7 linked regions of the Homo sapiens genome follow. The protein of the gene in region 4 purifies or fractionates together with the protein of the main gene of each other region. This does not show direct contact. Each region holds a gene or a part of one and is shown on either strand. Other genes may lie near its edges. The genes, in order: RPRD1A, DDX50, PRP4K, ARHGEF10L, NOP58, ARCN1 and HP1BP3.

Region 1 (4,270 bases), on a different chromosome or scaffold from region 4:
ATGCTTACATGTTCCAGCCCCACTCCCGGCTCACACTCTTAGGCAGAAATTCATTGCTCCTGTAAATTAAGTAATAATTAATACCGCTAATGAGAAATCTGGGAGTACAGGAGGTGATTTTAAAAAATGCTCGTATTTCCTTTGATTAGAGTAGCAATTGTTAGGGATACATGAGCCAGATTTGGTTTTATGTAAAAAAAATCTTTCAGTTGATGAGTTCTTGTTTAAATTGTATTGCTGTGGCAATTTCTTATTGTAATAATATGTAGGAGAATTTCTAATTTGAATCCCTTTATTTACAGAAAGCTCACTGTAAATTTGTAGGAATGTCATGGTACTACCCCATTAAGTTATTTTTATTAGTGTTTAGTTATTGATTCAGCAGTCTCTAATTGTGCCAAAAATGGTGCTTAGATTAGATTGCCATTGCTACCCATGGGAGCTGCTACTTAATTATTCCCACCTCAAATTCCCAGCTCTCAAGTTAGCACTACTCCTTTGCAATTTACTCCTTCTCTGCTCGTATAAATACCCTCAGATGATGATAGTTGGTGGCCACTATACCTTTGAAGAGGTTGCCCACTTCTACATGGAAAGGAAAAGATGGTTTTTTTTTTTAAAAGATGAATTTGATAATTAACTTGCCACTATTTCACCTTGTGATGAAACCTCAATTTTAAACATAGTGTTAATTGTTTTATTGTCCACAGAATTAAGGGTAAGTAATGTCATACAATTTTTGTCTTTAGTCTTTTAGTATGGTTTCTTTAACTTCTATTGAGCTTCTGTTGCAGATATTGGACATGGGCGTATCTTCTAACGATGTCGTCACCATTAGTATATTCTTCCTGCTAAAAATAAATATCAAACCCTGAAGCCTGTATTGTCTCATGTTTTTGAAAATTGAAGAGAAGACTGTAACTTTATTCTGCTTTATACTTTCTCACTTATGATGATGGTCATTTGTCACTGTTTACAAAAACAGAATTTATATTTGAAGTGTAACTGTAGAAAATAGATCAGATGCCACTCCCCACAACCCCCTTTTCCCCCAGTGCCTTCCAGCCACATTTCATAGTTGACAGTCATAGATTATGAGGCTGATGATAATAATAATGTTAACATTCATGTGTCAGGTACTATTCTAGGCACTTCACATAAGCAACTCATTTAATCTTACACAGCAGGATGTATTATCCACATTTGATAGATACAGAACTGAGGCACAGGAAGATTAAGTAACTTGCCTAAGGTCACAAAGAGCTAGTGAGTTGTTTGGAACGCAGAGAATCTGCCTCCAGAGCCAGTGCACTTCATCAAAAAGACACATTGCTTCCTGTTTTTACTTAAATCTAAGATTAAAGCAAATGCTAAAGTCCTATTTTTTCCAACTTTTTCTGCTCCCTCTCTTCTCAGAGGTAATCACTGTCTTGAAATAAAGCCTTCTAGGAACTTTTTTTGTTGTTCTTCTGCATAACTGGATTTTATATTATAAAGAAGAAATCACCTCAATTATGTTCAGCTGTTTTTTAACAAGTAAATACTCTTTACAAGTACAGAAATAAACTTGAAAGTTATTCCACAGAACTCTTTGTAAATTATCACTTAGAACTATGTTATTCCTTTGTAGAAGATGTGGAAATGATTTGAGATATTTAGACTTTTTTGTACCAAGTAGGTGGCATCACTTTGAAGTTGAGACTGAGAGGTGAAGATTTATGTTTTCTGAATCAGCTGTGATACTATCAAGTAATTTTCATCTATTGTGTATCTTTGAACATTAACAGTGGTTGACCAGATACTGATGTGTCATTTGTTGCTGCATTTTTGATAATGGAACATAAATTTAAAGTATCAGTTCGGGAATTGGCCATTTCATATTTCTTAAGGAAGCCATTATTAAAGCATGTGTAATGAATGAAAACATGAAGTGGTTTAAAATTTGTGTTTTAAGACAATCATTATTTTTGAAACTTCTGACTATAGTTGGTTACTAAGCAGAAGCAGATAACTGTTGGGCCGGGTGTGGTGGTTCACGCCTGTAATCTCAGCACTTTGGGAAGCTGAGCTGGGTGAATCACTTGAGGTCAGGAGTTCAAGACCAGCCTGGCTGACATGGTGAAACCCCATCTCTACTTAAAAAAAAAAAAAAAAAAAAATTAACCAGGTGTGGTGGTGGGTGCCTGTAGTCCCAGCTACTTGGGAGGCTGAGGCAGCAGGATCACTTGAACCTGGGAGGTGGAGGTTGCAGTGAGCTGAGATCACACCACTGCCCTCCAGACTGGGCGACAGACCGAGACTCCATCACGCGCGTGCGCGTGCACACACACACACGAGATAACTGTTAAAATAGACTATTAATAACTTTAGTTTACATTTATAATATTTAGGGATTGCTATAGGAATCATTTTACCATTATGAAGTTGAAAGTATTGCATAAACTGTTTTTCAGTTAGCTTATTATCTTGGAAGGCATACATGAATAGGAGAATTAAAATGACATTTTGACTTTGACATTGTTTCCTAGTACATACAAAAGTTATGTTTACAACTTTACTGTTGTCTAAGTATTACAATTACACTTTACTGTTGTCTAAGCATTAGGATTACATATAAAATTACATATAAAAAATGTACGTATCTTAGTTAAAAATGCTTCATTGCTAAAAAAGACTAATCATCTGAGCCTTCTGTTAGTCATAGTCTTTGCTGGTGGAGGGTCTTGCCTTGATATTGATGGCTGTTGACTGATTAGGGTGGTGATTGCTGAAGGATGTGGCTATGGCAGTTTATTAACACAGTGATAAAGTTTGCTGCATCAGTTGACTTCTTTCTTGAAAGATTTCTCTGTAGGATGCAGTACATTTGATAGCATTTTGCCTACAGCAGAACTGCTTTCAAAATTAGAAGCAATTTTCTCAAGCCCTGCTACTGCTTTATCAAGTAAATCCTTTGTTGTCATTTCATCTCCACTGGGAGTAGATTCCATCTCAGGAAACCACTTTATTTGCCCATCCATAAGAAGCAACTCCTCACCAACAAGTTTTATGAGATTGGAGCAGTTCAGTCACATCTTCAGGCTCCACTTCTGTGTCTCGTTCTCTTGCTATTTGCAGCAGATCTACAGTTATTTTCACCACTGAAGTCTTGAACCCCACAAAGTCAGCCATGAGAATTGGAGTAAACTTCTTCCAAACTCCTGTTAATGTTGATATTTTATCTCCTCCCATGAATCATGAATGTTTTTAATGCCATCTAGAATTGTGAATCATTTTCTGAAAGTTTTCAGTTACTTTGCCGATATTCATCACAGGAATGACTATGGCAGCTATATAGCCTTACGAAATGTATTTCTTAAATAGTGAGACTTGAATGTCAAAATTGCTCTTTTATCTATAAGTGGCAGAACACGTGTTAGCAGGCATGAACACTAGTCACATTGTACATCTTCATCAGAGCTCTTGGGTGACCAGGTATGTTGTCAATAGTAATTTTTTATTATTGTTATTTTGGAGACAGTCTCTTGTTCTGTCACCCAGGCTGGAGTAGTCATGCAATCACAGCTCACTGTAACCTCGAACTCATGAGTACAAGTTATCTTCCTGCTTCAGCTTCCAAAGTAGCTAGGACTGCAGGTGTGTGCCACCATGCCTGGCTAATTTTTAAATGTTTTGTAAAGAAGAGTTCTTGCTGTGTTGCCCAGGCTAGTCTTGAACTCTTGGGTCAAGCAGTCCTCCCACCTGGGCCTCCCAAAGTGCTGTGACTACAGGTGGGAATCACTACATCTGGCCAATAGTAATATTTTGCAGGTCTCAACAGTTGGCTTAAAATACTCAGTAAACTATGCTGTAAATAGATGTATTGTCATCTATACTTGTTTCTTTTATAGAGCACAGGCAGAGTAAATTTAGCATAATTCTTAAGGACTCTAGAATTATTCAGAATGGTAAATGAACATTGGCCTCTACTTAAAGTCGTCAGCTACTTTAGCTCCTAATGAGGGCCAGCTTGTTTGTTGAAGCTTTGAAGGCAGGCATTTATTTCTCTCTAGCTATGAAAGTCCCAGGTGGCATCTTCTTCCAGTACCAGGCTCTTTTTTCTACATGGAAAATCTGTTGTTTAGTGTAGCCACCGTCATCAACGACCTTAGCTAGAGCCTCTGGGTAACTTGCTGCAGTTCTTAGTTCAGCCCTTGCTGCTTCACTCTGCACTTCGAAGTTACGGAGACAGCTTCTTTCCATAAACCAACCTCTGCTACTTTCAAACTTT
Region 2 (3,500 bases), on a different chromosome or scaffold from region 4:
ACAGAGCAAGACTCTGTGTCAAAACAAAAACAAAAACAAAAACAAAAAAGATAAAACTGATCTTTTAATCTGCTAGGGCTATGAAATCTTTAAATGCAAGAAATAGAAATTCAACGAACTATTAAAATATTAATTTAGGAATTAATTGTAAAGACTTCCATTTTTCTTTAATGTAACTCTTTCATTTTCAGGGAATTACTTTTAAACGTGTAGGTGTTCCTTCTACAATGGATTTAGTTAAATCTAAAAGCATGGATGCCATCAGGTATGCTTTCTGAACTTGCTGAATAATTGTTTCTTTTGTATTAGGCTATTCATCTGTAAGCTCTCCCAGTTCAAATAGCAGAAAATTTTACCACCAGTTTTACCAGCAGACATTTAGTTATATTAAAATATAAAACAGTGGCTCATGCCTGTAATTCCAGCACTTTGGGAGGCTGAGGCGGGCAGCTCATGAGGTCAGGAGATTGAGACCATCCTGGCTAACACGGTGAAACCCTATCTCTACTAAAAAAATACAAAAAATTAGCCAGGCGTGGTGGTGGGCGCCTGTAGTCCCAGCTACTTGGGAGGCTGGAGCAGGAGAATGGTGTGAACCTGGGGGGCGGAGCTTGCAGGGAATCGAGAGTGCACCACTGCATTCCAGCCTGGGCGACAGAGCAAGACTCTGTCTCAAAAAAAAAAAAAAAAAAAAAAAAAAAATATATATATATATATATATATATATATATATATAAAATGTGGCTGGGCACTGTGGTGCACGCCTGTAATTCCAGCACTTCGGGAGGCTGAGGTGGGCAGATTGCTTGAGCTTAGGAGTTTGAGACTAGCTTGGCCAACATGGCGAAACCTTGTCTCTACAAAAAATACAAAGATTAGCCAGGAGTGGTGGCGCGTGCACCTGTAGTCCCAGCTACTTGGAAGGCTGAGGTGGGAGGATTGCTTGAGCCCGGGAGGTTGAGGCTGCAGTGAGCCAAGATCGTGCCAGTGCGCTCCAGACTGGGTGACAGAGCAAGGCTCTATCTCAAAAAAAAAAAATTACTCCTTCTTTTTCCCATTTTTCTTCTTATCTTTTATTTTTTCCCTATGTCTTGACCAAGAATACTATTTTTAAACCATAGGTCTCTGGCTTCCGTTTCTTACGCTGCTGTTGATTTTTTCCGACCATCAGCTCAGAGACTGATAGAAGAGAAAGGTGCAGTGGATGCATTGGCTGCAGCTTTAGCCCACATTTCTGGTGCATCAAGCTTTGAACCACGATCTTTGATCACCTCTGATAAGGTAGAAATCTGTGAGAAAATTGTACATGAGTGGGAAAAGGTTAAAATTGAACATAGGAAATATTGTAGTGAATTATTGTGCTTTTTGTGCAGAAAAAAACTGTTTTGCTCTATGAGAAACTGGTCTCCTTATTTTCCTCTACTCCCTAATAAATCCTTTTTTGACAATCACCTCTTCCAAATTTTTCAAACCCACAGAAAAACTGAAAGAATAATGCAGTAACCACATACGATCCACCTAGATTCAACTGTTAAAAGTCTGTATCATGTGCTTTATATCCTTTTTTAGCTCTAATTTGTAATTAAAAAAAAAATGACATGTAATAATTGTACATATTTATAGGGTATGTGGTGATGTTTCAGTACATCCGTACATACCATGTATAGGTATCAGATCAGGATCATTAGCGTATCCATCGTCTAAACATTTATCATTTCTTTGTTTTAGGAACCATTCAATATCTTCCTTCTTGCTTTATAACTTTATAAGTTTTTTTTTTTTTTTTTTTGAGATTGAGTCTTGTTCTGTTACCCAGGCTGGAGTGCAATTACGTGATCTTGGTTCACTGCAACCTCTCCCTCCCGGGTTCAAGCAATTCTCCTGTCTCACCCTCCTGAGTAGCTGGGACTACAGGCGCACGCCACCATGCCTGGCTAATTTTTGTATTTTTAGTAGAGACAGGGTTTCACCATATTGGTCAGGCTGGTCTCAAACTCCTGACCTCAGGTGATCTGCCCTCCTCAGCCTCCCAAAGTGCTGGGATTACAGGCGTGAGCCACCTCACCCGGCCTGTATTTTTTTTCTAAATCATTTGAAAGTAAGTCGAAACACCGTGATATCATCCCTAAATATTTCAACATGCATCCTCTGAGAATAAGGATATTCTGCTACATAACCACAATATAATAAGCTCATCTGTGAAAATTAATGATAGTTCTGTATCATCATCTAATATTTAGTTTATATCCATTTTTTTCTCATTATCCTGAAAATGTCTGTCTGTCTGGGTATTTGGAGAGAAATATAGGAAATGCTCACTTTGCACAGACCTTTGTTAACTGAAACTTGTATCCCAGAACCTACATTTCATTTTGTAAGTTTCCATGGAATCCTGCAAAGTAAGAAATAGACTCTGCACAATTAACACAGTAGCATGCAAAGTAAGTAAGAAATGCCTGTGTGTGTGTGGAGGGGTTGTGTAAGTGTAACACCATCTGAACTGGCCTGCTGCCAGATTCGTATCACATGTCAAAACATACCACACCAGAACCATTGGTGCAGGTAGCTCAGAGATTTTTTACTTATTCAAGTATAAGTGAGGGGAGTTTCTTGGTGAAGAGAATTTTAAATAAGAGTTCTGTTATGTCTGAGTGGAGAGAGTGAGTGAGCGAACCTGGTCCTGGAGACATCTATAAGACTAGAGCCTGCTGGTGGGATTTTCAAATAATAACAAAACAGACTAATTTGGGCAGCACATCCCTGTGATGGGGAGGAGGAAACAAAAAGGGCAGGGCAGGTTCACTTGGATGTGACTTATTTGGTGTAGCACAAATGAATGCTGCTGGGGTATCTGATGGTTTCTACCTGGTAGGTGTTAATAGTTTAGCTAAATGTCATTTTGCTTTGAGTGACTTATTGGGCTCCATTCCGTTTATCCATATGTGTACATATACCTATTTGTATGTATGTTTTTAAAAATTCAGGACCTAGTTAAGTTTTACATGTTACATTTGGTATTATGTCTCTTTAGTCTCTTTTAGTCTGGAACTGTTTTCTCATCTTTTTAATTTTTTTCTGATATTGATTTGGTGAAGAGTCTTGGTCGGTTGTTTGGTAGAATATCTCACTGTCTGGATTTGTCCGAATCTCTTCAAGCATCATTTAACTTTTGCCTTTATCCTCTTTTAAACTGAAAGTAATATCAAAGCTTGACTTTTATATTTAGGTGAAATGTTTTTGGCAAGGGTACTTTATAGTTAATATGTACCTCATATTGCATCACATCAAGAGGCATAAAATGTTAGGTTGTTCCAGTACTAGTAATGCTTAATTTGCATTTGTTTAAGATGGAAACTGCCATATTGTAAAGGTGTATTTTACTCTCTGTAATTAGTAACTTGTGGGGTGATACTTTAGCATTGAGCAGATATCCTATCCCTAGTAACCCACCAAATGCTTAAGACAGTATTTAAAACATATTTCTTTAGAAAATATTGAGA
Region 3 (3,862 bases), on a different chromosome or scaffold from region 4:
TCTGTTCGGGAAAACCTAGTTTGCTGATAAATACCCATGTTTAGCTCTCCAGTCATTGATGGTCCTCAGCTCACTGGATCTTCATGAGGTTGAATCTTTCTAATTAGAGAAAGTATGTGTGGCCGGGTGTGGTGGCTCATGCCTGTAATCCCAGCACTTTGGGAGGCTCAGGCGTGTGGATCACCTGAGGTCAGGAGGCGGAGGCGAGCTGTGATCGTGCCACTGCACTCCAGCCTGGCGATAGACGGCGAGTCCGTCTCAAAAAAAAGAAAAAAAGAAAGAAAAAAAGTATGTGTGAAAGGTCCTTAACCAATACATCCTGCATACTATTTTCCCTAAAATGTACCAGATACAATAACCTCATAGCCACTTTAGATAGTTATGCAGTCTAACAAAATTATAACTGGGGCCTTTACATGAAGACTATCCAGAGCCAGTGCCATTTGACCATTTCTCAGCCCAGAATCAAGCATACTAGCTTCTACCTGCCACTCTGCGGTGGTTAGCTCCAATGGGGTGGGTGGGTGCATTCTACAAGGCCATTCTGCCTGCCTTATCTGCTTTGCATGCACTAAGATTCACAAACTACACTGTGAATCTATTTTACTCACTGTTTTGAAAAGCCAAAAACAGTTCCTTAAAAGAAGAAAATAAAGAGTGGGTATACTGAGGATAAGAGCCCAAGATTTGTCAAGCTATCATGTGAGCAATGAACCAATTTATTTTTATCATTATAAAAACAGGAGTTGGCTCATTACTTATCTGTTTCCTTTACTAGGAAAACCAAAGCAGAAATGTATGTAACAGGAACACGAATATAATACACTCTTTGGTGTTGTGCACCTAATGCTTTGAAAATGTTTTGATGTTTGTGAGGAAAATCTGAACTCAACCAAAGAAAAAAACCAGGAGACAATATGATAATAAGAGGCATATTTTATTCAGTTTCCCAGTAAGTCAATTAGAAACATGCACTGCTAAAATGCAAGTTACAATTCAAATGGTACCATAAATAATTAGAGTACACACTGAGCATTTTCAGAAATCAGCTTCCATATCTTGATCACTAAATGGAAAGGTTCTTCAGAACAGTCCCTTACCCTATATACAGAAGGAGAAGAAAAATTAAGGATGCCATAATGACATCTATCAGAATAACTGGAAAACATTTTAATTTAGCATACATTATTGACATGTAAAAAACACAAATGAATTTGTCGTGAACATTTCTATAAGGAAGACATTCCATTAGGAGGAGAATGATAAAATTCATGTTGAATATATGCTGGAACTAGGATACTATTAAGAAAGAAACACATTTATGAAGCCCAATTGGTAAAGATGTCATTATAACTAAATGAGGAAAATTACATATTTGAATATATGGCTTTCTTTCCTATCTTCAACATTCAAAAGGGCCATTTCTTAACTACTTCGCCTAAATTTTATCATGTTGATTCCTTTGTTTCATCTCAGAGATTTTATTTCTACCCCATATAGCTAGAGTTCTGCTTACAAATGATAAAATACAGGTAAAGCATAAGAGGAATGCAAATATGGAACAAAACTGAGAACATTACATTTTACTTACTCTACCACATACCATAAAACAGTACATAAATATTTCATTTTGAAAAAAAAGTCCTGAGTACTTATTTTTGTTAGGAATAAAGTGGTACTTAATAATGGCAAAACATTTCTATTATTTTAAAACAAAATTTTGAGACAGTAGAGTGAAATGAGATAGCTATCAGGGAATGAAGAAAACAGGATGTATTAATAACGATTTAAGGGTGAATATAAGATGCTCCCCCTGCTCAAAACCTCGAAATTCCAACCTCATTTCTGATGATCTTCAAGAATAAAGTCTATCCAGAGTGTAAAAAATGTCTATGCTTTCCAGATCTCAACTATTCTCCCAACCCTAGAAAAAACTGTAACATCTTTGAGAGCCGTACCTAACACTTCTATGAGCCCTCAAGTCTGACAATCACTTGATATCACTTTTGCCATAAAGTATAATAAAAGCAAAAAATTCACGGCAGATAGCATTTGAAAAGCATACAGCTACTCTAAAAGAGGAATGCACATTTATTCAGGAGCATTCACTAAATAAATTCAATCTAGTAGGTCTTGCAGAGTTCCAAATTGCACCTCAGCAAAATTACAGAGTGTAGGAAAATCATGTAACGTACATAAGACAGTTGATAGGGTTCCTTTCAAATAGGTAGTCTAGATATGCTAAATTGGGGAGTATAAAAAACCCAGAGTATCTTTTTCATTTCCCTTAAAAAAAATGGCTCTGAATATTTTGTCTACTTTAAGACTGGAACACTGGTTAATAACGAGGTTTCTACAGGGTAAGTTGGGGAACAGATACTAAAGGAGTTGAACAGTATTCTTAATATTCCAGTTTGTATTCTTTTGCATCTGCCTAAAGCTGAAGACTACTTTCAGATATATGCTATTCTGGTGGTTGCTGTTTTTCTAAGAATCCTTAACATCCAATTTTGACAACCATGTGTTATGTGGAATCTCAGCATCCAGCAGCCTTTTATATTACTAAAGTTGACCACTATTTTTATTTTAGGGGAGGAGAAACTGGGGGAGGGGAGAGGCAGGAAGTATGATAAAACAAGCACTTTACAGACGCACTCCACAACAGCACTAATTCTAAATACCAAACACCAATAAAACCCAAATCATAATGCTGAAAACTAAAAAATTAGACAAAAAATAAATGAAGGATTGTTTTTTAATAAATCTTTTATAGGACAGAAACCTTAGCTCATGTCTTCTGGTTGTCATCATCTTCCACTGAGCTGCACCTAAAACACAAAGAACAAGTAACAAGCAACTTTGTTTTTTAAAGAACAGGTAACAGTTTTGAAGGTATAAGATGAACTGTTTCTAGTGGAACTTACTTAAAAAATTACATAAAATGAAGCCATAAACATCACCAGAAGCATCAAATTGTCAACTACTTTGGGTGAAAATAACTACAAGAGACTTGAATATGCAGCATATTATCACCGAAATAAATAATGGTGGGAAAATCACTACCCATTTCATTAAGGTAGAATAGCTGCACCTGTGACGCCTTAATTAAAAGGCTTCACTCTACCTGAAGATGAAAATCACCTTGTATTTATTTTAGTAAGTCTAAACCGTGAAGAGACGGGGTGTAGGTTCAGAGGTGGCTTATTATATCATCTATCACCTTCCTGGCTGTAGTTCATTTCATGTCTTTAAATGGAGCAAAACCCACCAGAAGAATCAATGCTGCTATTCTGATTTTCCATTCTTGAATGCACCAAAATGTGCATGCTTGTTGTAATTAGGTGCCTGGGTGAATAAAAAAATCCCATTTACAATTTAAAAATATTATTTAAACCCCTAAAATCTGATTATTTTCCATATTCCTCAGGGAGACAAGCATTAATTTTACCCCCCAAACAGCAAAGATTACATATATTTCTGAAAAATTCTCTTCTACCATGTTAATAATACAAATTCCTTTGTGTTGCAAAACCAAGCTGATTTAAACGATTTTGTCTTAAATTGTTGCTAAATGTTTATCTACACATGCTGTCAGAAATAACCTTGTTAAGAAGGTGAAGCTGGTGTCTCAGCAAATCAGACCCCTTGGAGAAGGCGTCGAATGGCCTGTGCCCCGTTTTCCTTTTTCTCTTTCCGCACCATCAAAAGGAAAAGTGAGAAAATAGCAGAAACATTAGTTAAATCCTGAATTATACCCCATAACCTACAGGAATAATCTCACTACACTGAAAGCTGACAATATTTGTAGGATTTTTTGAAATAATTAGGATCCTAATTATTAATAAACTGGTAATTTTGGCTA
Region 4 (4,270 bases):
GGGCTTTGGAGTCAGGCCACACAGGGTCTGCGGCCCAGATCTGCCCCTTCCTTCTGTGTGACCTCAGGCAAGTCCCCGCACATCTCTGGGCCTCAGAATCCTCAATGGAAAAAGAGATTCTCAACAGACCTAACTCTTAAGGCTACTGTGAATGTGAAATGAAAAAGATGCACAAAAAATACTCAGAAAAGTGCATGTAAATATCCATTTATGTATCTGTATTCATACCATGGGGTGCACAGGAAGAAAAACATAGTAACGAGGTCTTTGGTCTTTGAGAATCAGTATAGTCCAACCTGCATCATTTTTCTGGGTAACAGCTTTATTGAGATACAATCCAGTTACCATAAAACGCATCCTTTTAAAGTGCACACGCCACTGATTTTTGGTGTAGTCACAGAGTTGAGCAATCACCACCATCTAATTTTAGAACATTTTCATCACCTCCACCAAAACCCCTAGCAGTCTAGCAGTCATTCTCCATTATCCTCTCCTCTCAGGTCCCTGGCAACCACTAATTTACTTTCTGTCAAGTTCCATCAATTCCTGGATGGGGAAGCTGAGGCTCAGAGAGGGGAAGTGACTTGTCCAGGGTCACAAAGCAGAGCCTCCGGCTCTGGCCCCAGCTGTTTCTCCACCGCACCACCTCCCTCCCACTCAGAAGCCTCCCTGCCCCCCGCTGACCCCGAACACCCATCCTGTACCCTCACTCACCCCAAACCTCCCCGTTCCACACCCCTGCCCCCTGAGGCACTCTCCCTGGGGCTATACTCACGGAGTCCGATTTTGGCCAAATGTAACCTGTTGACCCAGGAAATCTTGCTCAGGGGGTTGGGGGTGATGAAAACCACCATGAAGCTAATGGGGCGGCCGGACCTGTGGTGAGAAGGGTTAGAGTGGATGTGTGAGTACCCACACAAGGGCCAGGCTCCCCCAGCTGTCACGTAGTACTTCCTCCAACCCACGCGCCCTGGAGATCAAGGAGGTCTGGTCAGAGCATCCCCAAAACGTGGCCAAAGAGGTCAGTGGCTTGGCAAAGCCTCGGTCCCCTGGGGGAGGAATCCCTCCGCCCACAATGACCCCCAGAGGGAGGTACCTGGCCAGGGTGGCTGAGCCACGCTCCCCAGCCTGGCTCCAGGAGCCTCTGGCTTTGTGCCCGGCAGAGCCTCTGCAGGCTGTGACTCCACCTGGTCAGCGGTCAGCTGTCCACAGGTCTTAGACACCTTACATGTCTGACCACGTGCCTCTAGAGGGAGGAATGGGTCTCACTTGGGTCTGTTCCCAGCACCTGGCATGGGACAGTTGCTCAGTAAATGTTTGCTGAGTGGACACAGGAATGAATGAAGAAATGAATGAATCAGGTTAAGCACCAGCTTGGGGCAACCAGAGGTTGCTGTTGTCACCACGCTGTCCTCTCACCTCAGAGCAGTGGGGGCCTTCCCAGCCCTTTGGGAGGTGGGCAGGGCAGTGTCACAAGCCTCTAGGGTGCACGTGGAGAATGAGAGGCAGAGAGAAGGGAGATGGAGGAAGGGAGACGGACAGGCCACTCAACAGGGAGGCGGCAGATTCAAAGCTGCTGACTCCTACACATGGTCCCCTGGGGGACTGAGCCCATGGTCCTACCTCAAATGATAGTGCTCCAACCTTCTCTTCCTTGCAGCCACTGTGCTTGTGACACTCTATCCCCACCTTCACCCCACCCTGGAGGCCAAAACCTGGGCATTGAGCCCCCTCATTGCACTGGCCTGGGCTTCAGAGTCAGACCTCATCAGGACCCAGCTCTGTCTCTCACGATGTGGCCTTCAGCCTCTCCTGAAACTCTGAGCCTCACCTTCCTCATCTGTAAAATGGAAATAAAAAGACCCAACTTACAAAGCCTCAGGAGGACCAGAAAGATCCCGTTCCCTGTCTCTGCCAGGCCGAGCAGCTATGGCTGTCATCAGTTCCACAAACCTCAGTTGGGGTCTACTGTGCACAGCTCCTGTGGTGGGCATTCTGGGGCTAAGGTGGTGCTGGGGGGAGGCTGGGTCCAGAGAGAGGAAACCCAGGGCCTGGCCTGGGGGCCTAGATAGGCTGAAGTGACTGAAAAGGACACAGCGCAAATGGAACTGACCAATGGCAGAGTGTCTGAGTATCCTAACAGTGGGCCAGGCTTATCCAGGACATGACCAGGCTGTTCATTAATTCATTCATTCATTCCACAGTCTTTTCATGAGCACCTACTGCGTGCCAGATGCTATCCCAGACATGGCCCACGATGCCTACATATCCACTCCCACCATGGCATCTCGACAAATAAGAGGGCTCCAGGTACCCTCTCCGGATCCCCTGCTCCACTGGAAGCCCAGCAGAGGCAGCAGCCCTCCCTCCAAGACCCCCTCCTCTCACTTGTCGGGTTTCCCAGGAAGCAGGAGCCTGAGACGGCACTTGTTGGCCGAGTGGATCTCTTCCTCCTTCACCCGCATCAGCCTCTGCAGGGCCAGGCACCAGTCTTGAGCCACAGTCATGTTCAGGTTCTAGGGTTCAGGAGGCCAATGAGGTCACCACACAGCACACTGGCTCCCCAAAAGCCACACCAGATCCTATAGGAATCACAGCACCCCAGAGGAAGAGAAACTGAAGAAGTCCTGGAGCCTCACTGAGGCTGCACATTTAGCCCCACGCAGGAGGCCAACTCGCCATGCCCCAGGCTTCCCAGCCCTGGGCTCAGATCCCACCTGGAGCCCTCCTCTGAGAGGGACATGCCGTCGCAGCCAGCTTCCCCTCCACACTGGGTAGAGGCCCAGGAGGGGCCACATAACGGAATGGCCACTGTGCAGAGAACAAACAAAGGCCCCACAGCCAGGCTCCACTCAACCCAAACCAGAGGATGCGCCCGAACCAGCGGCCGCAAAAGAGACTTCCAGGCAGGGACATGGAGCTTCAGCAGCGACAGTTGCCAACAGGAGCTCAGAAGCTAGGAGCACATCGGGGACATGGGCCAGGAGAGGAGCCCCTCCCTACTCAGCTTTCTGAATCCAGGCACTGCCCACACTGGGGAGCTCAGGCCAAAAAGGTCAGGCCAGGCCACGTACCTGGTAGGTGCCGTGCAGCGTGCTGATGAGAAGCGTGATCTGCTCCACCACGGCCAGGTCCTTCTGCAGGTCCTGCAGCTCCTGGAAGAGGCGTGGGGGGCCGAGGTACACCTTATCTGGGCAGAGAAGAGACCAACTCAGGCACAGGTGAAGGCGCTAACAAGAAGCCAAGCATCTGCTCACAACAAAAAAGATCCAGAGGCTGGGCGCGGTGGCTCACGCCTGTAATCCCAGCACTTTGGGAGGCCGAGGCAGGCAGATCACGAGGTCAGGAGATCGAGACCATCCTGGCTAATACGGTGAAACCCCGTCTGTACTAAAAAATACAAAGAAAAAAATTAGCCGGGCATGGTGGCGGGCACCTGTAGTACCAGCTACTCAGGAGGCTGAGGCAGGAGAATGACGTGAACCTGGGAGGCGGAGCTTGCAGTGAGCCGAGATCACGCCACTGCACTCCAGCCTGGGTGACAGAGCAAGACTCCAACCCAAAAAAAAAAGAAAGAGTTCCAGAAAGTAACATCCAGTTCCTACCCTGACCAGAGCGCCCAGACTAGCTGGGAAGCCAGATCCTTTCAAGAGTAAAGTCTAACACCTGAGATCCAGGCCATAGTCAGTCTGTACAAAGGGCTGTATGAGACCACAAGACCAAGAGCAAGCTGTGCCTGGGAGAGAGGAGGGGCCTGCATAGGGCTGGAAGTGTGGTGGGCACTGCCAGGAGAGAAAGACAAGAGCGTGTGCAAAGGCACTGTGGCTTGAGGCAGCCCATGAACAGCAAGTTGTTCAAAGACATCCTGAGGACCTATCGTGTGCCAGACTCCATGCTAGAGACTGGAGACAGCAGTACACAAGACAGACAGGGTCCTCATTCTTCCGGAGCTTATGACCTTGGCAGGACAAGTGGCGGAGGAAGCAGTCAGTTAACAATGGTGGGTGGTAGGAGGTGGTGGGGAGAAAGATATCAGTGTGGTGGGACAGTGATGGGGTGAGGGGGCCCAGATCACCAGTGATGATACAGATGGAGTAAGGGTGAGATGGGGGTAGGGGGTGGCAGGTAGAGATAGAGCAGGAGGGTCCAGGAGGACCAGATGGGGAAGGCCTTGAACGCTAGGCCCCTGGGCTAGGAATTTGGACTGTATTCTCTAGGCCGTGGTTTTGCACACTGAGGTCTTATGAAGCCCCAGGGGAGTGGAGGGGAA
Region 5 (4,270 bases), on a different chromosome or scaffold from region 4:
CCCCATCTCTATTAAAAATACAAAAATTAGCCAGGCATGGTGGTGCACACCTGTAGTCCCAGCTACTCTGGAGGGCTGAGGCAGAAGAATCACTTGAACACAGGAGGTGGAGGTTGTAGTGAGCCGAGATCGTGCTACTGCATTCCAGCCTGGGTGACAGAGCAAGATTCCGTCGCAAAAAATTTAAAAAAAAAAGAATAAAAAATAACACTTCAACCATTTTCAAGTGTACTATTCAGTAGCATTAAGTATTCTTATGATGTTATGCAACCATTACCAGGATCTATTGCCAGAGCAATTTTATCATCAGAAACTGAAAAATTCTGTACCCATTAAACAGTAACTCATTCCCACCTTCCCCCCAACCTCTAGTTATCTTTATACTTCTGTCTCTGAGTTCACCTATTTTAGGTACTTCATATAAGCAGAATCATGCAGTATTTTGTGACTATTTCACTTAGCATATTTTCAAGGTTTATCATGTTGAAATATGTATCAGAATTTCATTTCTTTTTAAGGCTGACTAACATTCCACTGTGTGAAGTGGCTGGGTGTACGTTACCCAAAATGCTTGGGACCAGAAGTATTTCAGAGTATTTGCAAACACGTATGAGGCTGAGGATGGAACTCGAAGTCTAAATAGGAAATGCATCTACATTTCACATATACCTTATATACAAAACCTTGAAGGTAATTTTACACAATATTTTAAATAATTTTGTGCATAAAACAAAGTTTTGACGTGTGGTCAGGTGTGGAGTTTTCCACTTGTGGATTTGTGTGGTACCACAAAAAGTTTTAGATTTCAGAGCATTTTGAATTTCAGATTAGGGACATTCAAGCTGCATCCACAATGCAGTTTATCCATTCATCTGTTAAAAGGTATCTGGGTTGTTTCCACTGTTTGGTTTTGTAAATAACACTGTTATGAACATAGGTGTACAAGCAACTCAGTTCTGTTTTTAATTCTTTTGGGTATAAATCTAGGAAAGGAATCGCTGGTTGAGCGCTTTTTTTTTTCTTTTTTTGGAGACAGAGTCTAACTCCATCACCCAGGATGGAGTGCAGTGGTGCGATCTCAGCTCACTGCAACCTCTGCTTCCTGGGTTCAAGTGATTCTCCTTCCTCAGCCTCCTAAGTGGCTGGGACTATAGGCACACGCCACCTCGACTGGCTACTTTTTTGTATTTTTAGTAAAGACAGGGTTTCGCCATGTTAGCCAGGCTGCTCTCAAACTCCCGAGCTCAGGCAATTCACCCGCCTTGGCCTCCCAATGTGCTAGGATTACAGGTGTGAGCCACTGCGCCCAGCCGAATACTTTGTTTTTTTTTTTGAGACGGAGTGTTGCTCATGTTGTCCAAGCTAGAGTGAAATGGTGCGATCTCGGCCCACTGCAACCTCCGCCTCTCAGGTTCAAGTGATTCTCCTGCCTCAGCCTCCTGAATAGCTGAGATTACAGGCGCCTACCATCATGCTCAGATAATTTTTTTATTTTTTACTAAAGATCGGGTTTCACCATGTTGGCCTGATCTCGAACTCCTGACCTCAGGTGATCCACCAGCCTCTGCCTCCCAAAGTGTTGGGATTACAGGCGTGAGCCACGGCCGAATGCATTTCTAAAATAGAAAAACGATTAAGATTTTGATTTTTTTTTTTTTTTTTTAGTGAGATGGAGATTTGCTCTTGTTGCCCAGGCTGGAGTGCAATGGCACGATCAACTCACTACAACCTCTGCCTCCAGGGTTCAAGTGATTCTCCTGCCTCAGCCTCCCGAGTAGCTGAGATTACAGGCATGCACCACCATGCCTGGTTAATTTTGTATTTTTAGTAGAGACGGGATTTCTCCATGTTGGTCAGGCTGGTCTCAAATTCCCGACCTCAGGTGATCCTCCCGCCTCAGCCTCTCAAAGTGCTGGGATTACAGGCATGAGCCACTGTGCCTGGCAGCTTTTGAGCTTTCTAAAAACCATTTAATGACACAGCAGAATACACAACTACAAAGATTGCACTTATGTTTTTAACATTTTCATGGAAAAATACAAATGAATTAATTAACGTAATGTTAATTCTGTGATTCATATAATCTCCAAATAGTCAACCTCCGCCTCCTGGGTTCAAGCAATTATCCTGCCTCAGCCTCCTGAGTAGCTGGGATTATAGGTACACGCCACCATGCACATTTAATTTTTTTTGTATTTTTAGTAAAGACAGAGTTTTGTCATGTTGGCCAAGCTGGTCTTGAACTCCTGACCTCAGGTGATCCGCCTGCCTCAGCCTCCCAAGTGCTGGGATTAAAGGCTTGAGCCACCACACCTGGCCTCCTTTCTCTTTCTCAACAGACAGAATCATAAAAGATAGTTTCAACAGTATGAAAACGCATGAAGGACAGAGCAACAAATCGGACTTTGCATGTACTATACTTACAAATTGCCTGAACAATCATTGTGTCTACTTTATCAGCGCTAAACTTCAATCTATATCGAGACAGGCTGGGAAGAAAGGGGAAAATAAATTAGCAAGATAGCATCTAGGAAAAGCATTTAAATTAACACCTTAAAGTTTTTTTTTGTTTTTGTTTTTACTCAAATCAGCCTGTAGTCAGAGCTGTAATTGGTTTTTCTAAGAAGAAAAATCAGCTAAGTAGAAATGCACCATACGAGAACAGAAAATACACATTAAAAAAAAAAACTATATGTGCTGCTACGACCTTTATTTCTGTAACATGAATGAGTTTATGTATGAATGACAAATAGGATAAGCTGTGTAATACAAAAGTCATATTGGACTGGGCGTGGTGGCTCACGCTTGTAATCCTAGCACTTTGGGAGGCCGAGGTGGGCAGATCACCTGTTAGGAGTTCGAGACCAACCTGGCCAACATGGCGAAACCCTGTCTCTACTAAAAATATAAAAATTAGCCAGGCATGGTGGGGCACGCCTGAATCTCAGCTACTCTGGAGGCTGAGGCAGGAGAATCGCTTGAACCGGGGAGGCAGAGGTTGCAGTGAGCCGAGATCACGTGCCACTGTACTCCAGCCTGGGCAACAAAGCAAGACTCCGCCTCAAAAAAAAAAAAAAAAAAAAAGCCATATTGGTTCATGCAATTTTTAATAGCACATATTAAGCTTTATACTACCAGTTAGGAACTTTGCAGGACTCTTAACATCTGAAAACAGAAAGCTGTGGAGTAACAATATTGTCTGTATAAAAATGTTTTTTCATCTCAGCACAATTAATATTTTGGGCCTAATTCCTTGTTGTACAGGCTGCCCTGTGCATTATAGGACCTTTAGCAGTATCCCTAACTTTTATCCACCAGATACTCATGGCAGACCCCAACCCACCTCCAATTGTGACAACCAAAAATGTCTATGGACATAGACAAATGCCTACTGGGGGGACATCTGATTGCCCTTGATAGGGAACCACTGCTATACACAATGCAGATTTACCCAGGTTTGGATTTTTGACTCAGTTTCACTATTTGTTCTCTCTTAGAAATGCTTATTACAAAGCTCTCCCTAACCTTTGTGCATTTTTGCTCTTAACTCTAGCTTAGCAGCTTCAACCCTTTCAATCTATGCCCACCTTTTAATTTTAAAATAGACCTTTTTAAATTGTAGTGTTTCTTTTTTGTTTTGTTTTGAGACGGAGTCTTACTCTGTCACCCAGGCTGGAGTGCAGTGGAGCAATCTCCACTCACTGCAAGCTCCACCTCCCGGGTTCACGCCATTCTCCTGCCTCAGCCTCCCGAGTAGCTGGGACTACAGGCGCCCGCCACCATGCCTGGCTAATTTTTTTGTATTTTTAGTAGAGACGGGGTTTCACTGTGTTAACCAGGATGGTCTCGATCTCCTGACCTCATGATTCACCTGCCTCAGCCTCGCAAAGTGCTGGGATGTATTACAGGCGTGAGCCACTGCGCCTGGCCTATAGTGTTTCTTTCTCCCTTTTTTTTTTTTTTTTTTGAGATGGAGTCTCACTCTGTCACCCAGGCTGGACTGCAGTGGAGCGATCTCCACTCACTGCAAGCTCTGCCTCCCGGGTTCACGCCATTCTCCTGCCTCAGCCTCCCAAGTAGCTGGGACTACAGGCGCCCGCCACTGTGCCCGGCTAATTTTTTGTATTTTTAGTAGAGACGAGGTTTCACCGTGGTCTCGATCTCCTGACCTTGTGATCTGCCTGCCTTGGCCTCCCAAAGTGTTGGGATTACAGGCGTGAGCCACCGTGCCCAGCCTGTAGTGTTTCTTTTAATATTAGCTTAAAATGTC
Region 6 (4,270 bases), on a different chromosome or scaffold from region 4:
AGTTTGTGTCTTTTAAAAAAAGTTAGCTGGATGTGGTGGCATGTGCCTATAGTCCTAGTCCCAGCTACTAAAGAGGCTGAGGCAGGAGGATGGCTTGAGTCCAGGAGTTTGATGCTGCAGTGAGCTATGATTGCCCCACTGCACTCCAGCCTGGGCAACAGAAGAAGACCTTGTCTCTAAAACAATAACAACAACAAAACTACAATGGTTTCAAAATGAAAGCTATTAAAAATGAAAACTAATGATAAAAATATACAAAATGCAGCACCAGGTCCATTTCAAAAGAAAGTCATTTTGTCAGAAAGAACTTTGCTATGGTAATAAAAATAAAAGTGTACCAGCAAGGGCTATTTCTAGTTCTCAATGCAAACTAGCTTAGTGGGACTGGCCAGAGGCACTTACTTGTCAGTGGAATAAAAGATTCCTCTGTGGTTTGTAGTCTCCACTTTAGCACCCCTACGTCACTGTTGACTGGAAATGACTTCTCTGGATTCTTCAGGCCAATTAGAGACTCTGCAGTGAAAAGTTTTTTATCCACATTTGGATGGGTCTAGAATGAGAGGGAAAGGAAAACTCCTGAGGTTCAGATAGACGAGAAACAACCCCTCACTAGGCTTATATGGCCCACAATCTAAACATCCAAAATAGAGTACCTAACAAATTCCAATTCTTTTTCATTTTGAAGAAAGATTTCCCTTCTTCAAAGACTTATTTTAAAATGATTTAAGATACTTAAAAACTAGTAATTTTTTAAAAAAAAAGCTAATTTCAACTCTAAAAGCCATTACAGAACAAGTTTGCACCTGAAAAAGTTAAAAGACTATTAACCAAGTTCTTTCCAAAAATACTTCACAGGGAGCAGGTTCATGGTGGGGCCAGGTTTGCCAAGCAGAAGGCTCCAGTAAGACCCTGATCAGCTGCCTGGGTCAGACAGCAGTTCTGGCCTTATATAAAGTAGCAGAAAAGGGCAAGCTCTGTGTAAAGTCTAGTTGCAATTTTGCCTAGAGACTTAAAGTTGTTAAAATCCAAGCCAATTAAGATAGTCTTATCTTTTTAAAAGAAATTGCTTTTGGGGAGGCTGAGGTGAGAGGGGCATTGAAGGTCAGGAGTTTGACATCAGCCTGGCCAACATGGCAAAACCCTATCTCTATTAAAAATACAAAAGTTAGCTGGGGCTGGACATGGTGGCGCACGCCTGTAATCCCACCTACTCGAGAGGCTGAGGCAGGAGAATGGCTTGAACCCGGGAGGCAGAGGTTGCGGTGAGCCGAGATCACACCATTGCACTCCAACCTGGGCAGGAAGAGTGAAACTCCGTCTCAAAAAATAAAAAATAAATAAATAAATAAATAAATAAATAGCTGGGTGTGGTGGTGCACACCTATAGTTCCAGCTACTATGGAGGCTGAAGAGGAAGCATTGCTTGAGCCTAGGAGGTTAAGGCTGCAGCGAGCCAAGGTTGTGCTGCTGCACTCCAGCCCGCATGACAGAGAGAGACTGTGCAAAAACAAAAAAAAAAACAAAAAAAAGAACAAAAAAACAAGACAAAAACAAAAAAAACCCAGAAGGGCTGGGCATGGTGGCTCATGACTACAATCCCAACACTTTGGGATGATGAGGTGGGCGAATCATGAGGTCAAGAGTTCGAGACCAGCTTGGCCAACATGGTGAAACCCCATCTTTACTAAAAATAAAAAAAATTAGCTGGGCATGGTGGCAGGTGCCTGTAATCCCAGCTACTCAGCAGGCTGAGGCAGGAGAACTGCTTCAACTGGGGAGGCAGAAGTTGCAGTGAACCAAGATCGTACCACAGAACTCCAGCTTGGGCAACAGAGAGAGACTCCATCTCAGGAAAACAAAACAAAACAAAACAAAACAGAAATCACTTTTGGATAGCACTTTACAAGCCAGCAAAAATGTCAAATAATATAAGCACTGCTTCCAAAAGACAATTCTGTGCTGACTACGGTGGGGAAAGTAGACAAAAACACTCTTCCGTAAAAAGGCTTTGTTCTTGTGACGAGATGTCGGCTAAATGAAATGAAATTACAAGAACACCTGTAACATAAAGCAGGGCTTATATATATCTATCCAATAGTTGGAACACACACACTTATATTGAAAGGATTTTATGTACTTTTCAAATACACCATTAGATACTGCCCTTCAGTTAACAAAACAAGCACTGGCAGTTTATTTAATAGCAGAATGAGTAAATTTCGCATTGTGCCACCACGCCTGGCTAATTTTTTAAGTTTTTGTAGAGATAGGGTCTTGTTGCTCAGCCCTCATTGCTCAGGCTGTTCTTGAACTCCTGGGCTCAAGCGATCCTTCAGCCTCAGCCTCTCAGAGTGCTGGTATTATAGGCATGAGCCACCACACTTGGCCTAAAGCCTTGTTTTTTTAAAACTGTATTTCAAGCAAGATCCTAAGTGATTAATTTACTGTTTTCATAACAGCAAAAGACAAACACCTCCTTGTACCTTTTATTGGTGAGTATGAAGTCATTTATTAGATTTCGAAATGACCTTTTATTCAATTCCAATATTTAAAAGCCATCCTTACACAGCTGCTTTACTCACTCTCAGGTAGCTACTGTATGCAATATATTAACTTCTTTCCTAAGCGTTTAGAGTGATGCTAGTTATATAACTTAAGTAATTTTCTGTGGTTCATATTGGGAACTCTAGTTGAGAAAGACTATAATAGGTAGACAAAGTGTTAATACTCCCTATCAAAAGCTTCTACACACCTGTAGCTGCACCCCTTTCTTATCTTCATTTTCCACATGAAGACGAATTCGGCCATACTTGTCATCTGAGATCCTAAGCATGATCATGCCATGCAACTCCATATTCTGTAATCCTCCGTCTCGTCCACAGGTTAATGTTATCTTTTCTTCAATCTTCATATGTACACTATAAAGAGAAAGTAATACATTTGTTCAGAAAGGTAGAAACCAATGGCCGGGCGTGGTGGCTCATGCCTATAACCCCAGCACTTTGGGAGGCCAAGGCGGGCAGATCACCTGAGGTGGGGAGTTCGAGACCAGCCTGACCAACATGGAGAAACCCCGTCTCTACTAAAAATACAAAATTAGCCAGGCGTGGTGGTGCATGCCTGTAGTCCCAGCTACTTGGGAGGCTAAGGCAGGAGAATCGCTTGAACCACGAGGCAGAGGCTGTGGTGAGCCGAGATTGTCCCACTGCACTCCAGCCTGGGCAACAAGAGTGAAACTCTGTCTCAAAAAATAAAAAAGAAAAGAAAAGAAAAAAGAAAGGTAGAAATCAGAACTCCCTTTCTCCAAGGTCTAATGATTAGCCATCAACAACGTTTTTTTAAAGGTGCTACTGCTATAGCTATCAACATTTAAAAGGCGATACCCTTTGATACAGCAATTCTTCAACAGACTCTATCCTACAGATAAATTCTCACCTGTGCAAAACAATCTGCTAAGTTATTCACTGAAGAATTGTTTGTAATGGCAAAAGTTTAGAAACATGTCTGCCAATAGGGGGCTGCTCAAATAAAGGCATATTCACGGGCGTGGTGGCTCACGCCTGTAATCCCAGCACTTTGGGAGGCCAAGGCGGGTAGATCACGAGGTCAGAAGATCGAGACCATCCTGGCTAACATGGTGAAACCCCACCTCTACTAAAAATACAAAAACAAAATTAGCCGGGTGTGGTGACGGGCGCCTACTCAGGAGGCTGAGGTGGGAGAATGACGTGAACTCAGGAGGCGGAGCTTGCAGTGAGCCGAGATGGTGCCACTGCACTCCAGCCTGGGCAACAGAGTGAGACTCTGTCTCAAAAAAATAAAAAATAAAAAATAAAGGCATATCCACCCGAATGAATAGTAGGCAATGGTGAGAAAACAAACAACTGAAAAAACTTTCTATTTGTAAGTATTTTCAAGCTTAAAAAAATTAAAATTATACAAGGAAGACATATATACCCTTTTCCAGATTCACCTATTGTTAATATTTACCTCATTTGTTTTATAATTTGCACTTGTGTTTCTCTCTCTCTAAACATTATATATGTATGTTATACATTTGATTTTTTTTCCCTGAACCATTAAGAAGCAGATTATATACAACACGGCACTTTACCCCTAAATACTTCAGTGCTTATTTTATAAGATTAGGGATATTCTCTTACATAATCAATCACAGTACCATTATTAACTTCACAAATTTACACTGATAGTTTTTTTAGCTTTTTGTTGTTGTTGTTTTGAGATAGAGTTTCACTCTTCTTGCCCAGGC
Region 7 (3,500 bases), 3.1 Mb from region 4:
ACTACTGACTGAAAACCAAGAGGGAACAGCTTTACAAATTTCATATTTACAAAAAGAAAAACAAATAATCAAAACTGAATTCTTAATTTAAAGCATCTGCTTATAAGAAGTTGCTTTTACTGTAAAGATTTTTCTGATATTTATTGTAATTTAGATAAATCTCTAGGTTCAAAGCAACTCTAAATTATAGTGTATTTTTTCCTACTTTTGAATGTTCACCAAAAACATCTAATTTTACTTTGAAACAAAGCCAGGATTTTAGAGTACTTACTACTTATATTATTTCTTATTAACCTAAGCCCCACAACAGACAATACTTTATTTCAGTAAAGTATATTTACTCTAGGAGGTGGTGATTTGAGATGAGACACCCTGCCTTATCAGCATTATCGTGTGGATTGGTGAGACTGGGTGACTTCTCAATGAACTATTAGAAGAGGCACAATGTTGTAGGGTGAGGGATATGGAAATTAAGTAACAGAAGAAGACAATCCAGAATATATTATTGTAATTAAAAGGTAATTTTGAAGTCTTTTTTTTTTTTTAGACGGAGTCTCGCTGTGTTGCCCAGGCTGGGGGGCGCAGTGGTGCGATCTTGGCTCACTGCAAGCTCCGCCTCCCCTGGGTTCACGCCATTCTCCTACCTCCACCCCCTGAGTAGCTGGGACTACAGGCACCTGCCACCACCCCTGGCTAATTTTTTTGTTTTTGTATTATTTGTTTTTAGTAGAGACAGGGTTTCACCGTATTAGCCAAGATGATCTCAATCTCCTTACCTCGTGATCTGCCGGCCTCGGCCTCCCAAAGTGCTGGGATTACAGGCGTGAGCCGCCACGCCCGGCCTATTTCTATATGCCAGATGTTTTAAGAGAAGATGAATTTGGTTAACAAGCCTTTCAGTTTCACTGATATTTGCAGCTGTTTTTTGGATACTGAATCACCATAAAATATATTTTGGATATGTCTCTGTAAGAAAGATGAGAATGAAGGACTTCAGGAACCATGATATTGTTTTGTTACTGTTTACTGATTTATGAATAATTAGTTCTGTTCATCTTTATAAGAGATTCTCCTAGATGATTATCAATACCTATAGGTACACAATAGATGTTTAAGTGAATGGAAATAATTAAATACTTAGTTTTAGGTCTGCTGTTTATGTGCTACCTTAGAGCAAGTCACTTAACTACTTTGAGCTCAAGTCACTTAACCACTCTGGGCTTTTTTTTTTTCCCTGTGAAATAAGGTATTTGACTCAATGGTCTCTAATGTGTCTTTTCATTATAACTCTTGCCAGGTATGGTGGCTCATGCCTGGAGTCCCAGCAGTCTGGGAAGCCAAGGTGGGAGTATTGCTTGAGCCCAGGAGTTTGAGACCAGCCTGGGCAACATAGTGAGACTTTGTCTCTATATTTTGCAAAATTTTAAAATATAGATATATGTATGTATGTATGTATATAATTTAACTCTTGCCAAACTTATGGGCAATAAGTAAATGTTTAATTAAATACCTTTGAACACATAGGATTCACTTAGTGTATGTCAATTACCGTATGTGACAGGATATTAAATTGATGGGCATCTGTTTGTGGTTGAGGGAATTATCTAATCTGAATAACTAGATAACTTTCATTTCTGAATTTTTTTTTTCAGTGCATTTGCTGAAAAAAACCCTGCAGAAATGCGAAAAGAATGGGTGGATGGAACAGATCTCTGGGAAAGGGTTCAGTGGCACCTTCCAGCTCTGTTTTCCCTATTATCCCAGGTAAGTACTTAGCCTATAATAGATCACTGTAAATTTATAGTCTAAGTTACACACTCAGTTTAATTTATTTTACCCTTATTACTGTTTTAGTGAACTGGAAATACAGTCGTCCTTTGTTACATATAGGGGATTGGTTACAGAACTGCCCGCATACCCAAATGCGCATGTACTCAGCCCTGTGGAATCCATGTATCTGAAAAGTCTGTCCTCTTTGTATGCAGGCTTCGCATCCTGTGGATGTTGTATTTCTGATCTGTGTCTGGTTGAAAAAAAAAAGTCCACATATAAAGTGGGCTAATGCGTTGCCAACCTGTGTTGTTCAAGGGACAACTGTATTTGAAAATAAAGATGACTTTTAAGGCAGTATTATTTTGGAGTAAAAGGTTTTGTATAAAAATAGTGATTTTAGCCAGGCATAAGATTATTTGAGATCCTCGGATGGTCATTTTGATGTTCATTCCTTCTTTATCAAGTAAATGATAATGACAGATTCTTAGAGGATTATGTATAAGTTTTTGTTTTTGTTTTTTGAGACAGGGTCTCACTCTATCGCCCAGGCTGGAGCAGTGGTATAATCTCGGCTCACTGCAATCTCCGCCTCCTGGGCTCAAGTGATCCTCCCACCTCAATATCCCACGTAGCTGGGACTACAGGTGCGCGCCACCACACCCAGCTAATTTTTGTGTTTTTTGTAGAGATGGGGGTCTTACCATATTATCTAGGCTGGCCTTGAACTCCTGGCTCAAGCAGTCCTCTCGCCTCAGCCTCCCAAAGTGATGGGATTATATGCATAAGTTTTAATTGTCCAATACCAAGTGGGGAGAACATTGACTGTTTTCAAGAATCTTAACTCTACCTCCATACTGTAGAGACAGGAACACTTATCTGAAAATTTGTTTCTTGCAAATACCTTATTTATTCTTTGAAACAAAAAAATATATTGATCACCTCCTGTGGTCCAAGCATTGTTTCATGCACTGGGTTTAAAGCCTTTTGATTTCCAGTAAAGTACATAACATATACCACTAAGACCCTGTTTTAGCAAGACTATTGTGTAACTTTCTTATATTATTATTTCTGTACAAACATAAGTGTTACTTGGCTTAATACATATTATATAAATTTTTCGAACATTAAACATTAAATTTAATTCCCAAAGTCACACACACACAAAATGTTACATTCTGCCAGGTGTGGTGGGATGCACCTGTAGTCCTAACTACTTGGGAAGGTGAGGTGGGAGGATCCCTTGAGCCTAGGAGTTTGATTCCAGCCTGGGCAGCATAGCAAGACCCTGTGTCTGAAAAAGGCAAGAAACACACACACACACACACACACACACACACACACACACACATATATGTATGTATGTTATCATTTAAGGATATGTTAATCAAAGGAATCAAGGTTCATACCACCAAGGACAAAAAAGAGTTTAGGAGATCCTTGCCGAATACCTTTGAAGCTTTGAACAGATTTAGGCCTTTGAGGTCTTTTTTTTTAAGACTTGGAGGTCTTTTGCCAGTATTATGAGGCTGAAGTGTGTATTCCATGCAGACTGTTCATTGCTGTGTACTCATTGGCTAATACAGTGCCAGATACATATTAGGAGTTTAAGTAATTGTTTACTAAATAAATGACTATGGATTAATTTTATTAAATAGTGGGTATAGAATTAGGTATGGTGCAGGACTTTTATAGATTTGGCATAACTTTATATGTATGTTCAAAATACG

What was found.
Region 1: the proteins of ARHGEF10L (region 4) and RPRD1A purify together in Homo sapiens (affinity purification with mass spectrometry, with the first as the bait; one large-scale study listed by BioGRID). This does not show direct contact.
Region 2: the proteins of ARHGEF10L (region 4) and DDX50 purify together in Homo sapiens (affinity purification with mass spectrometry, with the first as the bait; one large-scale study listed by BioGRID). This does not show direct contact.
Region 3: the proteins of ARHGEF10L (region 4) and PRP4K purify together in Homo sapiens (affinity purification with mass spectrometry, with the first as the bait; one large-scale study listed by BioGRID). This does not show direct contact.
Region 5: the proteins of ARHGEF10L (region 4) and NOP58 purify together in Homo sapiens (affinity purification with mass spectrometry, with the first as the bait; one large-scale study listed by BioGRID). This does not show direct contact.
Region 6: the proteins of ARHGEF10L (region 4) and ARCN1 purify together in Homo sapiens (affinity purification with mass spectrometry; one large-scale study listed by BioGRID and IntAct). This does not show direct contact.
Region 7: the proteins of ARHGEF10L (region 4) and HP1BP3 purify together in Homo sapiens (affinity purification with mass spectrometry, with the first as the bait; one large-scale study listed by BioGRID). This does not show direct contact.

Annotation. Positions count from the first base shown.
Region 1 is NC_000018.10:36,022,203-36,026,472, reverse strand, and holds part of RPRD1A (regulation of nuclear pre-mRNA domain-containing protein 1A), read left to right. Parts: intron 1-794; coding exon of another isoform or gene 795-875; exon of another isoform or gene 876-1,587; intron 1,588-4,270. UniProt on the Homo sapiens protein: Interacts with phosphorylated C-terminal heptapeptide repeat domain (CTD) of the largest RNA polymerase II subunit POLR2A, and participates in dephosphorylation of the CTD by RPAP2.
Region 2 is NC_000010.11:68,935,815-68,939,314, forward strand, and holds part of DDX50 (ATP-dependent RNA helicase DDX50), read left to right. Parts: intron 1-191; coding exon 192-265; intron 266-1,121; coding exon 1,122-1,281; intron 1,282-3,500. UniProt on the Homo sapiens protein: ATP-dependent RNA helicase that may play a role in various aspects of RNA metabolism including pre-mRNA splicing or ribosomal RNA production.
Region 3 is NC_000006.12:4,062,040-4,065,901, reverse strand, and holds the end of PRP4K (serine/threonine-protein kinase PRP4 homolog), read right to left. Parts: 3' UTR 919-3,862; downstream 1-918. UniProt on the Homo sapiens protein: Serine/threonine kinase involved in spliceosomal assembly as well as mitosis and signaling regulation. Connects chromatin mediated regulation of transcription and pre-mRNA splicing.
Region 4 is NC_000001.11:17,636,808-17,641,077, reverse strand, and holds part of ARHGEF10L (rho guanine nucleotide exchange factor 10-like protein), read right to left. Parts: intron 3,191-4,270; coding exon 3,075-3,190; intron 2,517-3,074; coding exon 2,389-2,516; intron 1,841-2,388; coding exon of another isoform or gene 1,837-1,840; exon of another isoform or gene 1,247-1,836; coding exon of another isoform or gene 1,225-1,246; exon of another isoform or gene 1,097-1,224; intron 877-1,096; coding exon 776-876; intron 1-775.
Region 5 is NC_000002.12:202,285,879-202,290,148, reverse strand, and holds part of NOP58 (nucleolar protein 58), read right to left. Parts: intron 2,490-4,270; coding exon 2,425-2,489; intron 1-2,424. UniProt on the Homo sapiens protein: Required for the biogenesis of box C/D snoRNAs such as U3, U8 and U14 snoRNAs. Part of the small subunit (SSU) processome, first precursor of the small eukaryotic ribosomal subunit.
Region 6 is NC_000011.10:118,588,989-118,593,258, reverse strand, and holds part of ARCN1 (coatomer subunit delta), read right to left. Parts: intron 2,919-4,270; coding exon 2,753-2,918; intron 551-2,752; coding exon 403-550; intron 1-402. UniProt on the Homo sapiens protein: Component of the coatomer, a cytosolic protein complex that binds to dilysine motifs and reversibly associates with Golgi non-clathrin-coated vesicles, which further mediate biosynthetic protein transport from the ER, via the Golgi up to the trans Golgi network.
Region 7 is NC_000001.11:20,745,808-20,749,307, reverse strand, and holds part of HP1BP3 (heterochromatin protein 1-binding protein 3), read left to right. Parts: intron 1-1,652; coding exon 1,653-1,764; intron 1,765-3,500. UniProt on the Homo sapiens protein: Component of heterochromatin that maintains heterochromatin integrity during G1/S progression and regulates the duration of G1 phase to critically influence cell proliferative capacity.